2 separate regions of the Homo sapiens genome follow, and region 1 is linked to region 2. The links come from fine-mapping of genetic effects on gene expression. A gene starts in region 2. The other region holds a variant in brackets. All regions are shown on one strand. Distances are from middle to middle. Region 1 has its middle 36 kb from the start of LPIN1. Region 2 holds the start of LPIN1 (lipin 1).

Region 1 (5,374 bases), 36 kb after region 2:
CCAGTTAGAACTACACAAAGGGCACAGGGAGTAGGCCCAGCCTTCCTAAGGGATGTATTGTCCTAGGCCTAAAATTCTACTAAAATTATACTCAAAAACATGTGTGCTCTGAGTTCAACTGCCAGCAGCCCAGAATAAACAGCCCCAGAAGCCCCTAAACCTCTTCCCCTGTCCTGTTCCTCCTTGGCCCTGCACCCCACCTCATATTCATCTGACCCACTTAGCTTTTCCAGCACATATTTGTTGACTGACTGTTAGTTAATGGTGTTGCTTTACATCATGACATAGAATAGCTCTAGGGGTCATGTACTTCGCTAGGTACTGGGAACACAGCAACAAATGAGATGCAAATCTTGTCCGTAAGTCACTCATAAGCTAGTGGAGGGCAGGAAGACAAGTAACAAAGATCTCTGTGGCCAGGGCTACCATCAAGATATGCCCAGGGTCCAGAGAGAGCACAGAGGAGGCAGCCAAGCATCTGCCTGTGGGGAATGTAGGGAAGGTTCGTGCCTTCTGCAGGAGGGGACAGTTGAACTGCCTCTGCAGGGTGAGTGGGAACTCTGGGAGAGGAGAGGACAAGAAAGGCCGCTCCAGGCAGAGCAGAGAGCATATTCAAAATAACAAAGTCATCGCACATATGTTGGGAACAGCACGGTGCCCCTCATGATTCCAGAGTAGTTGAGCACATGCAGTGGGCATAAGGGGATGCCGGGGGGATCAGGGGGCAAGGAGGCAGGGGTGAGTGAGGCCGGCATGGCGAAGGCCTCGCGTGCTCCCAGGAGGACCTCTGGCCTTGTGCTCTAAGCCGGCCAGTTTCATTTTTTTAAGAATGCCCTCCTCAAACAACAACTCTTGCTGGAGCACATTATGTAATTAGAAAAAAGGGAAATGGCTATGGTCAAATGGGGAAGGGGACTGGAGTCTTGGCTACAGAAAACCTGAGGCTCTCAGAGCAGTGTGAGAGCAGTCACTGTGCACCACTGGGGATTACAGAGGAGGAGAGGGATGATCAAATCTGTGTCTTACAAGGACCACACTGACCTCCGCATGGAGGATGGATTCGAGGCAGAGAAGTGAATTTGAAGGTTATTCTAGCAAAGGATCGCTGGGATATGGACCAAGGTGATGACAGTGGGACAAAGAGGAAGATGAGCTCTGAACACAACCACATGATGGAATCACCAGGAAATGATATGCAACTTGGATTGGGGGGTTGAAGTACAGGGAATTTTCAAGGATGCCTGAAGTTTCTAGTCTGGGTGACTAGGTAGATGATTATATCATTCACTAAATTAGGAAAGCAAGAGGGATGAATTTAGGGAGGAATATTCTAGTCTCTTGGAACCACACCCAAAATAAAAAGGATAGATTTTCCTTTAAGACAGAACCAGGGAAAGAAGGCAGATGTGTGTTATAGGATTGTATCCAATCTGGATCCTTGCTGGGGTAGCAGGGGTAAGGCCATTGATTTCTTCATCTATACGTTGCTTAATATGGCAGCTAATGAAGTCCTCATTTCAACTGAGCAATGCATTTGAAACACTTCTTGGAATCCAGTTGCTGCTTCTATTTCAGCTCCTGTGGAATATTTCAGCATGCTGCAAAAAGTCATGCAACTTGGGTACAGATATTCTGGACCATCCAACCCAAATTCTTCAGGGGCCACCAACACAGTCACACGGGCACCAGAATTCTCTGTGTACAATAGTTGGATTGATTTTGCACTCACGAGGTAGGCTAGGAAGGCTGCCAGCAGTTTAAATTCACAGTGTTTGGATTTGGCCCTGATTCAAAATGAAGTTTTAAATCAAATACAAGATATATTCTTGGACTGCCAGAGGAGCAATATCTCTGACCCCCAAGAGTCTGGTTTGAATTCAGAGATTAAATATAAACACAAGAACACCAAAAATGGTGACCCAGTATATTTCAACAATAATTTCTTTCACAGCTAAGTAGAAAATAGGCTCATTCTGCCCACAACTATTTGTTGTAATTCAAAATTCCAACATAAAGTGTGAAGCTCAGCCATTTGGATTCTGGCATCAAGCAGTTGGCAGTCACGGTGGAAGCCAAAAATGAACCTGGCTTTGAATTCCAGTTCTTCTACTAGGAGCTGTGTGGCCTTTGGCAAGAAATTACCTTTCTAAGCCTCAATATTCTCATTTCTAAAGAAAGGCTAACAATAAAATACTTACCTCATAGAACTGATGTGAGAATCAAAAGACAGAATACTGTGAAAACAGTAACGTACCATACAGATGTCAGTGGCTACTCCTGGATGAAGGTCATGAAGTGGAAGATTCAAGGTCAGAAGTAGGTGAGCATCTTCAGAGCAGCTGGTTTGCTTCTACCTTGCTTGAACCTTGAGCTGTATGACTGTTCAGGTCCTTGTTCAGTGCATTGGCTGCCAGAGCCACATTCCTGTTCTCGGTGTGAGTCAGACTCCATGAAACACATGCTTGTGTTAACCTCCTTCTCAACTCTATTGTTTGTCTTGATTTCTTTCTTCCTTTTCTTTCTCATTTAACATAGACTTATGTGACGCTATGGATTAAATATTTGTGTCCCCACCCACACCCCTGCCACCATAAATGCATATATTGAAGTTGTAATCCCTAAGGTGATGGTATTTGGAGGTGTGGTCTTGCAGAAGGTGGGGGCTGATTAGGTGATGAAGATGGAGCCTTCAGAAATTGGATTACTACCCTTATAAGGGTAGGAGAAAGATAATCTCACTCTGCTATGTAAGTTCTGCTATGAGAGTCAGATGGAAAATGTACTTGAAAGTGACCAGCTCACGGCAGATACTCAATGAAGCTGAAATTGAATTCCCATCA[C/G]AGCCTCATTAAGATTAAGACCCAGGTCACAGTTCCTTGTAATCTTCATGTAGCTGGGCTCACTGCTACCGTTCTTGCCATGATTTGCTGGAAGTCACATATCTGGAGCCTACGTCCAAATTCACATTCAGGTCTGTGGGACTCCAAAGCTCTTGCTGCTGTTTCATTGATGGTGCAACATTTAAACAGCAGAAATCTCACAAACACAGAAGGAAAAGAGAGAATTCAGAGAGTAATGTTTCCAGATTATCAGGCTCAAAGTCGTGGGCTGCTCCCAGTTTACAAATGGGTTGTCCAACGTTCATTTGTAGATTTTTGTAAAAGCAGGGTAACATTTTCATATAGAAACGGTACTACCAAAGTCAGCTTTTCCAGGACAAGAGAGGCAGAGAAAACTATAGCATTACTGAAGAAACAATGGCAGCATATAACTCGGGACCTAAAAGCATTATGGTTGGTTTATACAGTCTGCTTTCATGGGAAAACCCATTCACAGTCCAATGGAGGATTCCAGGAATGTGTGGGAACTGTCCAAAATGTGAGAGGAGAACCCTGGCCTGGGGATCAGGCAATCCAGGCTTTAGCGCTGGTGTCGCTAACTTGTTGCAAGGCATCGACAAGGTACCGCCCTTCTCTGGGTCTCAGTTTTTCCATCTAACGGAGGCTCGAGTTACACTCAGTGGTTTCTAAGGGTTTTCATCTCCAAAATTCTGCATCTACATGCATACACCCTCCTACACCATGATTCCAACAATGATACCCCCTTTCTTTGGTAGCCTGGTACCCTCTGTTGAGATAAAGGAAGAGGATAAAGGAAGGTTTGCTCTGAGTAGGGGGGAGATGGGGTGAAAGGGATGATGTTTTATGTAAGAGGACTCCTCCTGGGACAGTTCTGGCAAATCTGATGAGATAACCACTTGTGGTCCCCAGCATGGGTTTTGGAGTCAAACTGTGTAGAATGATCTAGGGTAGAATGCTGGCTTCACCACTTACCATCTGTGTGGTCTTGAGCAATTCATTTAATATTCCTGAGCCTCCATTTCCCCTCTATAAAAGGGGAACAATAATAACAATAATAATAGTAGTAGCTTTGTCATAGGGCCCTTGTGAGGATTAAAGAAGATACTTAATGTCAAGTGCTCAATATATATTCGTTATCATCATCATTGTCATCATCATCACCAACATCATCATCATCACCTTCCCTTCCTCCCATTGAGAGGTGGATAAACTGGGTTCTAACTCTAACCCTGGCTTGCTGGGTGACTTTGGCAAGTTTTTCCCCCTCTTTGGGTCAGCTTTCTTACGTATCAAATGCCTGGATTATACCAAAGCAAGGGTACCTAACTGGCCAAGTGCAACACAGCTGGTCTCCATCTCCTGTGCCTCCTGCTCCATTGAGCACATCACACCACATCATTCCCCACTGAAAACCTTTCATGGCTCCCCATTGCCCAGGAGTTAAGGCCCAGGTCTGGCATGCATGGCCCTGCATGATCCACTCCTGCCTGCCCCCTTGCCTCAGCTCCTCTCCCATGCCTCACTCTCCACTCCCGGGACATGTACAGGGTTCCCATCTCAGTGACTAGGCTCCCCTGCTTCCTCCCAGTCGAAGGTTGACCCTCCACCCAAATCTGTCCTTGGAGTCATTTCCATGACTCAAAACCCAGCTCTCCATGGGGCCTTCTCAGAGTCCCCCCCTTGGCAAATAATCACCCTCCTCTGTGCTGACTCAGCATTCCAAAGAGAAGGCCACAGTGCAGTAGGCAAAAAGTGAAATTGATGAGAGTCAAGCTGCTGGATTCCAGCTGTCGGGGGGCCAACAGTGAAGGGTAATGCCCATTCCCTGGGTGGCTGAAGGCAGATCACTGCTCCTCTTAGGGCCTAGTTTCCTTCTCTGTCCTGTTAGTTAGGAGAGATGACCTCCAAGGGTCTAGGTGAAGGTTGCTGCCCCACTGCCTGACACAGCTGGTCTCGGATGCGGATCTGATGTGAAACTGTGATCATCACTCAGGATCTTTCTCAGTGAAGCCCAGTTCAGTTCACTTCCCCAGGATTTTCTCACATGAAACTCCTGAAGTCCAGCCAGGCTTCTCTAAGGGGCCTACCCAGTCATAATTAGCGGAGACCACTCACTCATCATTGAAACACATCAGAAGAGTCATTTGAAGGAAGTAATCATGCCTGGCTCAATGGTAAGGTCCATCCCAGCAGGCAGGTGAGCACCTGTGGTGCTCACAGAAGCAGCAGCGCTTGGTTGGGACAGGCCCCAGCCACTCCCTTTCTCCCCTCCCAAGCCACATCCAGTCACAAGCAAATCCTGCAGCTCCACCTCCAGTGGGGGACCCCGAGCACTTCTCCCCGTGCGTGCACCACCACCCAGTCCCAGCCACGCTGCTCTCTCCCGCAGCTCCAGCAATGGCTCCACAGCCAGTCTGTTTCTGCTCCTCATCAGCTCTGCTCCTCACAGCAGCCACAGGAACCTTCTGGAATGTTAGATCACACCACTCCTCAGCTCAAAACTTCCCGTGCTC
Region 2 (5,374 bases):
CCTCAAAAGCTCCAAGATCCCACGCCCGGGCTACCAGTGAGGAAGTGCAAGTGCAAACAGGTCGAACCACCAGCCTCGGTGTCCTGGCGGGACCTAACACCTGGATGTCTCTCAAAATGCTCCAAAAGCTGCCGACATCCGTGCAACAGCCCCCTCCCACCCTAAGGAAAAAGCTGCCTGTACCCCTCGACTACCCCCATTGGCAGGCTTGCCCAAATCAATTAACCTCATTTAGGTACCTTTTAGGCCTTGAACCCAGTACACAGATGGTCCGGAAAAGCCAACCGGAAGAGAGGTGGCAGGCAGGGGGAGGGGGTGTCCCACAGGGATGATTTACAGAGCAGAGGCCGGCGTCAGCCAGGACTGTCCCAACCCCACAAAGAGCCCCTCCTCGCTGGCACCCTGTGGCACTTTAAAATCATAACAACCACAATGATTCGTGGACCCCATATTATGTTCCAGGGGCTCTTTTTTATCTCAATTAATTTTTGCAACAATCCTGTGAATGGGTATGATTATCCCTTCATTTTACAGATGGGAAAACTGAGGCTCAGAGGATTGAAGTCTTCTGCCCAAGTTCTACATCTGTGAGTGGTCAGAACAACAACTGCAAAGCCCAGTGCTCTGTGCCGGCCTCGGCGCATCTCAGACCACGGTGGCCTCAGGACCTTCTTCTGAAATATCTTTTCATCTCCTGACCCTCCCCTGCCGTCTGTTCTGGGCCCTTTGTGCAGCTGACCACGCAAAGAGCAGGAGAGCAGGACCCACAGACTTCCTTCTGGCTGGGCCAGGCCAATTGTCCCCACCTAATCCAGGGCAGGCTCCTTCTCAGTCACTTCCAAGGTCCCCCCTACAACCAGGAATCCCTGCGGTCTCTCACCTGAACCCTCGCGTTCTCTCCCACACCACAAGACTCAGCAGGTCCGCCCCTTGTCCCCCTGTGCTTTTCTAAAAGAAAGGAACTGCTGATAAGCGAGACCTGGGTGGGTGAAAGAACTCGCTCAGGGTCCCACAGAGCTCAGGCAGAGCCCAGACCTCCCGACCCGAGTCCAGGGCTATATCCAGGCCTGGCTCCACAGGACCACAGGGCCCCACATGCAAATAGGAATAATAAGCGCCAAAACACACAACCCATGCACAAAAACACTCAATAACAAATGCTGGCAAACGTGAAGTGCTATCAAAGTATATAATCATAAATCCAACTGTTACACCTTTCAACAAGAATCTGGGAGCAAGAAAAGTGTTCATGTGTGGATGTGCTTATTTCTCAAATACTATACATTCCTCAACTGCTTACTTTCATTAATAAGACCCAAATTACGGAACAAAGGATAAACAGTCAATCTCACAATCACTACCCCTAGACCACCATACCACAACACCCCCAATTAAAAAAACGGCTACAAGCTTTGATTTCCCAAAACACTTCTATCCTGTGGGAAACTGCCGGGTTCTAAAACATCTCCAAATTAATACTGCCAGTTGTCTTAGTTGGTTTCCTGCTTGCTGATCAAAAACAGGGTTGACATCTGCTTTCTCCAGCAACTACTGACCACACAAATTACCTACTCTAGCTCCACAGCACTTAAGTTACTCCCAAAACGTTACTTCTCATCCTGCATTTTCCTGGCCTTGCCCATAATAAAATTACGTGCAGGAGCAGCTGACGGAGCTCACTAGGCCTAGCACCTCCTAGGCTGCAAGAAAGGTGCAGAGGCCTCGCAGGGGAGAGCTGTAATATGAGAACCGGGATTCCAACCTGGGCTCAGCCTGCCCTGCCGCCCGGCAACTGTATGACCTTGGGCACAGAGGTCAACCTCCCTGAGCCTCAGTTTCCTCAACTGCAGCGCTGGAATCCTAACTCCGGGGGAAAGAAAGGCTCTCATCCCAGTCCCCGGCGCAAAGCTGGGGATGATCGCGCAGAGCCAGGACGCACCCGCGCTGGCCGGCTGGAGCTAGTCCCCGCGGTTCTGGGACTGCGCGGCAGCCCCCAGTGGCCCCTACGCCGCTCGAGATCAGCCAAGCCGGGCCCACACCGGGCCTCGCGGCGCGTCAGGAAAGCCAGGCCCGAGGGATGCTCGCGAGGCCCTCCCGGCCTCCGGGGCCTGTTTCCCCGCCTCCCTCCCCCGAACCACTTCCCGTAGAGGGCCCCGGGGACGTAGCCCGGCCGTCGGTCCTCGGGCCCCGGGGCCGAGCCCCCGCCTCGCCACGCGTCCTCAGCGCCCCGGCGCCGCGCCCCGCCCCGCCTAACCCGAGGCTGCGGCCCCTGCTCCACAGCGGGAGGCTGGAGGCGGCGGCTACTCACCGAGCGGCGCCGCGCGTGGCCGCCTTTGTATTGCAAACACCCAGCCCGCCGCCGGCTGTCAGCGCAGCTCGCCTTCGGGGGCGGGGCAGGGGCGGGGGCAGAGGGCAGGGGCGGGGCAAGCGGGGCGGTGCGAGGGGGACTCGGGACGCGCTGGTGGCCCGGCTGCTTTCAGGGCCTGCTGGCCGGCCCTGCCCGCTCACCCCTGGCCGCCTATCTTAGCGTTCCTGGGGGTGGGGCCCCTTAGGCCGCCTTTCTGATTTTCCTTTCCAGAGCCAAACTCGTGTGTTTCTTCAACACTCTGACTTGACCTATGCCGATGACTGGGGGAGTGAGGACGGAGGGGTGCAGAGAAAAGGCAGCCAGGTAAAAGTCCAGGTAAACCACCCAGGGCCTGGCCGCGATCACGTCGGTCCTATGGGTCCCGCTTATCACCAGTGGCGGGATCTGAGCCCGTCCTTGACTTTACTGACCCTCGCCCTTCGTTTCTTCCACCTTAAAGGCGCAATCGCGTTGACCTATCGCCATCTCTTCTTAGCTTCTCCACGCCGGGCCACCCCTGTCCTTCATCCTGATGGTGACAGCCTCCACTCCCGCCTCTGCCAAGCGGTGGTCCAGGTGCGGAACGGTGGCTCTGAACAGGAGGGACAGGCAGCTCCCTGCGCCTCTCCAGCCGGGAGGCAGGCAGCGGATAAACAATGAGCCACATAACGTCTGGTGGTGAAATGATTTCCATCAATGGGAGGGTGTCATATTTGAACTGAAACTCTAAATGACAAGAAACACCTATGACTACAAAGATGGGGAGGAGGCAGGGCTTTCTGGAGAGCAGAAATGGCAGGTGCAAAGGTCCTGGGGCCGGTGCTGTGGGCTGGAGGGAAGGCAGGGGCCAAATATTCAGGTCTTGTAGGCCAAGGCAAGGAGTTTAGGTATTATTTAAATGTTATTCCAAACCAATTCTTTTTGAGACAGGGTCCCACTCTGTCACCCAAGCTACAGTGCAGTGGCACAATCTCGGTTCACTGCAGCCTTCACCTTCTGGCCTCAGGCAATCCTCCTGCCTCAGCCTCTCAAGTAGCTGGGACCACAGGTGCATGCCACCACGCCCAGCTAATTTTTCAAACTATTTGTAGAGACCAGGTCTCCCTATGTTGCCCAGGCTGGTCTCAAACTGCTGGGCTCAAGCAGTCTTCCCACCTTGGCTTCCCAAAGTGCTGAGATTACAGGTGTGAACCACCACGCCTGGTCCAAAAAGAATTTTAAACCTGGGAATTATATGATCTAATTTACTTCTTTAAAAAGTCACCCCTCCACTCCATGGAAAATGGACTGCAGGAGTAGAAGCCAGCAGACAGGTGGCACTGCAGGAAACCGGGGGACATGATGGTGGCTCAGATTACAGGGGCTACTCAGCAAGAAGCGGAAGGACTTCAGAGAGATTTGGAGGCAAAACCCACAGGCTTACTGATGAATGGAACCGGTGGAGGTGTGTGATGCGATACTCAAAGGCAAGTCTCAGTGTGGAGATGGAACCGCTGCTCTGCTGAGATGCAGAGGGCCAGGGAGGAGGCCAGCTTAGAAACAGCATCGAATGCGGCAGCTTAGTGAATTGGATAAGCCAGCAAGCTTGAGATAGATGTTTGGGGACAGCTGCTTGGAGAGCTTTGTCCAGGGGCGCGGCTCCCGTCCATCTGGTCAAGTGTGGACACGCTCCCGCTGGGCTTGGGGCAGCTCCTATCTAGGCAGCCTGTCCCATGCTGACATTGCAGACGTGGGAGCTACACAAAGAGAATCTTGCAGTTTGTAGGTGAGCTACCTCCACAGGGGTTTTCTCAGAGACCAGAGTTTCAAGTGCATCACGGCTGCCCAAAACTGCTGAGGTTGCAAGGCCCCAGAAGGAAGCCCTCCTGCACCCTCCCCTCCCACCTCCAGGGAGGAGCTGGCCTGGGAAGAAGTCTACTCTATGTGGAAAGGCTTTCCAGGAAGCCAGTCCAACTTCAGGCCACTTAAGTTTATTTTTTGTGTAAAATAAGTCCATTATTCAAATGTGGAGATGGGAGGTCTGAAAATATAGGACAATTCAACTCAAAGCCCTCATTCTGAAAATGATGAGCTGGGGGGCCCAGCACGGCTAGGGTCAGCTCTGATGAGCAGGGTCTGGCTGGATTCAGAGCAAATTAGGTCCCGCTGCTGCCCAGCCTACCACCTCGGGGAAGGCCAAGGGTTGGGGGGAGCCTTTTGTATAAACAAGCAATGAGAAGAAAACACTCACTAGATCACAGTGCACTCCCAGGCGATAAACGAAACCGGACTTTCCAAAGCCCTGGCGCTTTTGATCAGGCACTGGCTGGAGTCCCCCTGGGAGGGCCCTTGGCTGTGCTATCAGCAACCAGGCCTGACTGAGCAGTGACTCAGCCAGGAGAGCTGAGGCGATCCCCCTGGCCAATCCCAGGACCTAGCTGCACTCGGAAGAGGAGAAGGAACTCCAGGGATGAGTAATCTTGCTCTAGCTGACTGGAGGAGGAAGGAGGGGCTGAGTAATGCCTTAGCAAAGCCAGCACAAGCATCCTGATTCTAGAGGCTCAGTTTCACAATCCAGGAAATGGGCTGCAGGTGCACATGACACAGATCTGCTTTGAGGATGAAAAAGGCATCATGGGAAGCTGCTGTCACAGTTGTGGGGTTGGAAGATTTTTCAATTCTAAAACCCCATAAGTTGAGGAGTGGCCATTCCCAGAAGGATCTGTTCACTGCTGAGCCCAGCTGGTGACAGTAGCTGTTGTATCCCGAGAACTCTGAAGTTGTCCAGATCAACCACCTACACAGGCCCAGAATACCTGGGGCAAGGTAGGCGGGAAGAATGAGCATCCCTCTTCACGGGTGCCCTGCGAGCTACTGTAGGAAGGAGAAACACTGGCTGATCCCCCAGGACTCTGAGCATGGTTAGCTCTGTAACTGCCCGGGCAGAAAGGATCCCAAAGAGAGGACAATGAATTCTTCCCCTAGAGGTGCAGACTTTTATCCCTGGCACCAGTGCCTGGGGCTCCGGGGAAGGGAGGGCATCTCCTC

What was found. PIP is the estimated chance that this variant, and not a neighbour inherited with it, causes the effect. A credible set is the group of variants that fine-mapping cannot tell apart.
Region 1: its variant is the best candidate, but not a certain one, in a credible set for the expression of LPIN1 in whole blood (INTERVAL, PIP 0.70).

What each region holds. Positions count from the first base shown.
Region 1 is chr2:11,707,478-11,712,851 of GRCh38, reverse strand. It overlaps a transcript of LPIN1 not described here. Among named protein-coding and RNA genes, the nearest start is that of LPIN1, 36 kb to the left of the region's middle. The variant C/G (reference allele first, on the strand shown) is at 2,841.
Region 2 is chr2:11,743,606-11,748,979 of GRCh38, reverse strand. LPIN1 (lipin 1) reads right to left here and starts at 2,348. Exons shown (of 21, transcript NM_001349206.2): 1 at 2,309-2,348. It overlaps LOC124907735 (a long non-coding RNA gene), which reads left to right and starts at 3,521. Exons shown (of 2, transcript XR_007086220.1): 1 at 3,521-5,152. RefSeq lists enhancers at 425-1,096, 3,608-4,181 and a silencer at 2,100-2,669.